2 separate regions of the Homo sapiens genome follow, and region 1 is linked to region 2. The links come from fine-mapping of genetic effects on gene expression. Tissue or cell type: cerebellar hemisphere. Region 2 holds a variant in brackets; the other region holds the start of a gene. All regions are shown on one strand. Distances are between the middles of the regions.

The links. PIP is the estimated chance that this variant, and not a neighbour inherited with it, causes the effect.
Region 1: DOCK4 starts here. The variant in region 2 is fine-mapped to the expression of DOCK4 in cerebellar hemisphere (GTEx, PIP above 0.99). The same link has a PIP of 0.9 or more in cerebellum.

The regions. Positions count from the first base shown.
Region 1 is chr7:112,204,781-112,207,465 of GRCh38, reverse strand. It overlaps DOCK4 (dedicator of cytokinesis 4), which reads left to right and starts at 1,067. Exons shown (of 53, transcript NM_001363540.2): 1 at 1,067-1,364. The coding sequence starts at 1,328. It overlaps ZNF277 (zinc finger protein 277), which reads right to left and starts at 771. Exons shown (of 12, transcript NM_021994.3): 1 at 659-771. The coding sequence starts at 749. RefSeq lists an enhancer at 556-675 and a silencer at 846-1,195.
Region 2 is chr7:111,979,741-111,982,425 of GRCh38, reverse strand. The region is part of intron 7 of DOCK4 (dedicator of cytokinesis 4); the gene reads left to right. Among named protein-coding and RNA genes, the nearest start is that of DOCK4-AS1, 170 kb to the right of the region's middle. The variant G/C (reference allele first, on the strand shown) is at 1,474.

The DNA of each region.
Region 1 (2,685 bases), 230 kb before region 2:
CTATCACTTTCCTTTTCTTTCTCTAAGGACCCAGAGACTGGGAAGATCTCTCAGGCTCCACATACAAATCTGAAGAACACCCAGAGCAGTTAACCATCTACAGGGAGGTTGTGAGATACACACACTTTCCCTTCAGAGGTCACCTCAGCCACAAACTGGGCAAATCTGTAGAGTGGAGAGCAGTGACCACCAGTCTGCGACTGGAAATACTCCGGAAGCTAAATAAAACACACCTGCGAGGTCAAACCAAGCAAACCAAGGCAGTGTACTGGTGAGGAGAAAGAGCTGCTAATCCCAAAATTATAAACACACGCGCGCGAACCAGATCTGAACCAAACCCACTCAGCAGCTAGCTCAAAGCTGGGAGCTCCAAACCAGAAGACAAACGCTCAGGGAGCTTCCCCGGCGGAGGGGAAGGCCATTCCATGGCATTTTCTCCGCCATCCCATGGCATTTTCTCCGCCATCCCCGGGCAGCCCCAACCAAGTAGCCGCCACCGGCTCCAACCCATCCCGCTGGGCCACCACCCGTGGGGCCCAGTCGAACCCAGGTGGCCCCAGAGCTGAAGGGCTCCTAGGGTCAGACCAGAGGTCCGTTGCACACCCGGTCATAGAGAAAGGAAGACACATCAGCCGCGCCTCCGGGGCACCGTACTCACCCCCATAACCTACACCCCCGACTGTGCTGCAGCTCCCATCACGGTCTTCCTGCATTCGGGCGACAGCCCCCTGGGTCTTGGAAGCAGCCATTACCCGGCAGAAAAGAAAAGGGAGGGCCGCAGGGCGGGTCGGAGGCGGGGTGGCACCAGTAGAAACGCTACTGGAGGCGAACTCCCCGTCGACGTAATGTTTTCTCCACACCTACGCCGCGCTCTGGACCAATAGGACGCAATCAGTAAAACTGAATCCCCGCCCCGAACCACATTTGCCGCGCCCACTTCCGGGATGGGGAGGCCAAGAACTACAATTCCCAGCGTGCTGCGGGGCCCTGGGACGGGAGGGCTGGACTAGGCGCTGGCGGGCGGGGGTGCGCCGGAGAGTGCCCCGGCGTGTTCGCTTAGTTCAGTGAATCAGAACAATGACTGCGCCGCCGGGTACCCGGGAGCGCGTCGGAGGACTGTGAGCAGCCGCCGCCGGGAGAGCTGCGGGCGGCGCAGTGTCAACGCTGGGCTCGGGAGCCTCCAGCGCAGATCCTGCCCAGCGCCCGCAGCCCGCGCGAAGCCGCTGGGCTCCGGCACTGCAGCGCTGCTCGGGGACTGTGCATTGTTGTGAGCCGGAGAAGGGGCGCGGGGATTACAAAGCCTGAAGACCCCGGAGCCCCTTTAGCCATGTGGATACCTACGGAGCACGAGAAATACGGCGTGGGTGAGTCTCCGCGGGGCGAACTTTTATTCTGCTCTGGCCCGAGCGAGTGCGCATTTCTCGTCCTTGCCCCCGCGCCCCTCTCGCTCCGCCCGGTTGAAAATGCCTAATCCTGGCATCGCGCAGCTGGTACGGGGCTTTGCCGAGCCAGCTCCAGGCAGAGGGCTGCGCACCAGGCTCTCGCCCCGCACCGCCTGCTCGGCGCGCCCCGCACTGGTTCCCGAAGCGCCGGGACAGCTTGGGGGAGCGCGCGGCCGGCCCGCTAGCTTCGGGCTCTGCCTGCGGAGTTTGGAGTGGCGACTGGGCGTGTGTGTGTGTGTGTGTGTGTGTGTCAAGTTGGAAGAGGAGGCGAATGGGGTTTCTCTCCTTCCTTACCCTTCTTCCCCAAAGCGACAGGGAGCTGCAACGGTTCCTCTGGGTGGAGAGGGAGACAACAACACTCGGGCAGAGAGAACACCCCCAAAACAGTAGGGAGGCGCAAACCCTTCCCTCTGGCTCGGATCGACATTCCCGGAGTGTGGAATGTGGCAGGGTCCTGGAGAGAGCCGCTCTGACAAGCTGAGCCCTCTCTGACCCTCCTCCCTCTCTGCGATCCCGGATTTATGGGGTGTGTATGTTGCGGGGCGGGGGCATTGGTAAATTTCAACATCTGCGCCGCTCGGTTCTTTGGTCTTTGGAGAAGAACGGGTATTTCAGCAGTGTTTTTACTTCTGGCCACCCTCTCGACCCCGGGTGAGCGCAGTGGGGGCGGTGTGGCGGTACAGGGCTGCTGAGTGATAAATGGGGAGGGGGATCGGAAAGCCTGGTTCTTGGGGGCAGGGAGATAGCTTTTAGGAAAGCATACCCTGACACTGGCGTTCGGAGAAAAAGGAACAGGATAGCTCTCGCTGTTCTGTGTAAAGGTGAACAACAAAGGACATTAATGTTGACTGATGAATACAGGAGTCTCCCTTCCTTTTCCTCCTCCCATTTCAGGCGGGTTACAGTTCCCGTTTTTGTTGTTTGATTTCAGCTGGGTCGCCCCTTGACAGTTACTCCTTTTAGGGTTGAGACTATTAAGAAGCCAGGCTCTCCGACAAGGCTGCAGCCGGCCAAATGCAATTATAACCTCCCAGAAGGTCTAACAGAAAGCATTATGGATTTTACTAACACTCTTTATTTCCTATAATGCCCTGTTCTGCCGACTGGTGTACTTTGTGTGTGTGTGTGTGTGTGTGTGTGTTTTAAAATTGAGGACAGGTCTAGTGATTTAGGTGATGTGTAGATATCTGCTTATGTTCTAAATTCATTTTCCTGCAATTTAAAACATCTGGAAAGCCTTCCC
Region 2 (2,685 bases):
GGAGAGCCAACAGGGTAAAAATAATTGATGCCTCATATTAGGCTTAGATTTGGCTGTGTCATGAAATAAATAAAAAGCAGAAGATAAAACATGATAGAAATTTATTTCTTAAAGTATGCAAGTTTAGAAACAGGAATTTCTGGGTTTGGTTGTGGTTTTATGGTATGAAAAGATCCTTATCTTTCTGCTACATTGAACATGGCTTCCATCACCAAGAACACCTTTAAGTGCAGTATAGCTGCAAGAGTTCTAGCCATCATATTTGCATTCCAGGCAGTAGGAAGGAGACAGCTTTCTCTCAGTTGATTCAAATACTTTAATGAACCTTCCTGGAAGTTCCGCACAACACTTGCACTTACATCTCATTGGCAGAGCTTAGGCACACCCCTGTATTTAGTTGAGTATGTCAGGTATCAGATAAATAACTGATGTGACACAAATATATTTTATTTTCCTGAGTTTGGTTTTGTGCGTATGTAATTTTGTCTCTGTTCTTTTCATGTAACATTATATATGGGATGGCAAATTGATTTCACCTCTTTCAGCATTCCAGTTTATTGGTGGGTGGCTGCCTAGAGTTCAGTGTTGCTAAGATTCCAGGGTCTCATCTAGGGTCTCATTGATTAGCAATGTTGGCCGTTGGTGGGAAAGACAGCAGGGGATATTTTAGTATGTTACAGCTCAGATCCTAGTCCAAAGTCTTCATTTTACAGATGAAGAAAAGAAAATGTGATTTGACATGAAAACTTATTTTCTCCTCAGTGCTGGTTGCACTTGACTATTTCCAAAACAAAGACTATAGCCCAAAAACAACTCAAATAGTTATAAGCTTCAGAAGAGCATGTGCTTTTCTTTAAGGCAGTTTCTTTTTCTTTTTTACTTTGTTTTTCTCTTCAACTTCTATTTTAAGTTCCGGGGTACATGTGCAGGTTGTGCAGGTTTGTTACATAGGTAAATGTGTGCCATGGTAGTTTGCTGCACAGATCATCCCATCACCCAGGTATTAAGCCCAGCTTCCATAAGGCAGTTTCTTTTTCAAGTTTCTGTTTGTATCCTGGCCTAGCAATAATAAGATTCTCTGTAGCCCTGGTGTTTTTCTCATTCAACATGAAAGTGACTGACTGTTGATTTCACCAGGGAGAGCTGGGAGGCACCATCACCAATCCCTTGTTGTTGTTTGGCAATTTATTGTCACTTTGGGTCAAGGACCTCAGCATGGAGGTTAAATGGCCCAACACAGAGGACATTTGATTAATTGTTGCTGCTTTTCTTTTTTTACTTCTTCCTAGTCAGTGTCATGTTTGAAACACAAGTGTTTGCATCTTACTAAATTCATATTGCATCATTAGAAAAAAAGTCTCACTTTAGTTTCTTGATAGCCCTGTTAGCAGATCTTTCTCACCTAATTGTGTTCATTTAAGCAGTAAAAGTGCTAAACCGCACAGTGTTAGCATATGTCCACTTAGATATTTT[G/C]GTTTAGTGCCAAAGGCAAGATTTCAATCCTTCTATAAATAAAGGGAGCCTTATTAGCCAGCTTCTCTCCTATTTGTGCCTGCAGGTTTCTATCTTTTTAGAATTTGTAAGATCATGCATCTGCTTACTCTGCAATTCTTAGAAGGTTAGACTAGCAGATCTCAGAGGGAACACAGTGGTTCTCACATGCAATTTCAACCCAAGGGGATATTTGGCATTGTCTGGAGACATTTTTCGTTGTCACAACAGGAGATGGGAAGGAGAGGTACTATTGGCATCTGGTAGGTAGAGGCTAGGAAAAGCTGCTAGATGTCCTACAAAGCCCAGGACAGCCCCCACAACAAGGAAATATTCAGCCTAGTTGTCAATAGCATTGAGGTTGGTAAACCCTGGTGTAGACAGTTCATTCAATAATTAATGCATTATTTGAAGATTAAAAATTTGAGTCAGTTAAATAAATCTTTGGGATGAATCTCTTTCTTCTCCTAATCAAAGAGCTAGTTCAACTGTTAAGCACAGTTAGAGTAACTGATAGGTGCATTTGTAGCCACAAATTATCTCAAGCCCTTGAAGTGTGAACTTGACTTTTTAATTTGATTGTAATAATACTTTCACAGAAATTTTTTAGCAGTTTGCGGAAGTACTGAATTACCAAGAGAAAAGAAAGTAATCATAACCTACTAAGTCCAAATGGGTCCTAGACCTGAAAGAATAGTGGGGATGGGAAGAGGGGTATTTTCAGTGCCAGAGTGTGCCAGATGTGAAGGCCCATGTTAAATGTGCAAAGGGTAGAGTCAGGCAGGCTTATTACTAGCATGTATTCAAAGAACAAAAGTTCAAGCCCATAATTACTCGAAAGATGCAACAATACATTGTTTAGTTTGCTGTGATTTGCATCTGTCTGCACATGATCCTGATCAGTGATTCTCAACCCTCATTGCCCATTAGAATCACCTGGGGAGCTTTTAAAACTACCAGTCTCTGGACCCCCAGCCCCTAGAAATTCTAATTTAATTGTTCTGAGATAAGACCTGGGCATAAGTATTTTTTAAAAGCTCTCTTGGGGACTCTAAACTGCAGCCAAGGTTGAGAACCACTGATCTAGATATATTGGATTCATTGCATCGGTAAAGGAGCTAATTTTTTCTCCTCAATTCTTGTGAATGTCATGATTGGTGCAGGGAACTTTGCACTATTTGAGGTTAAGAGAGG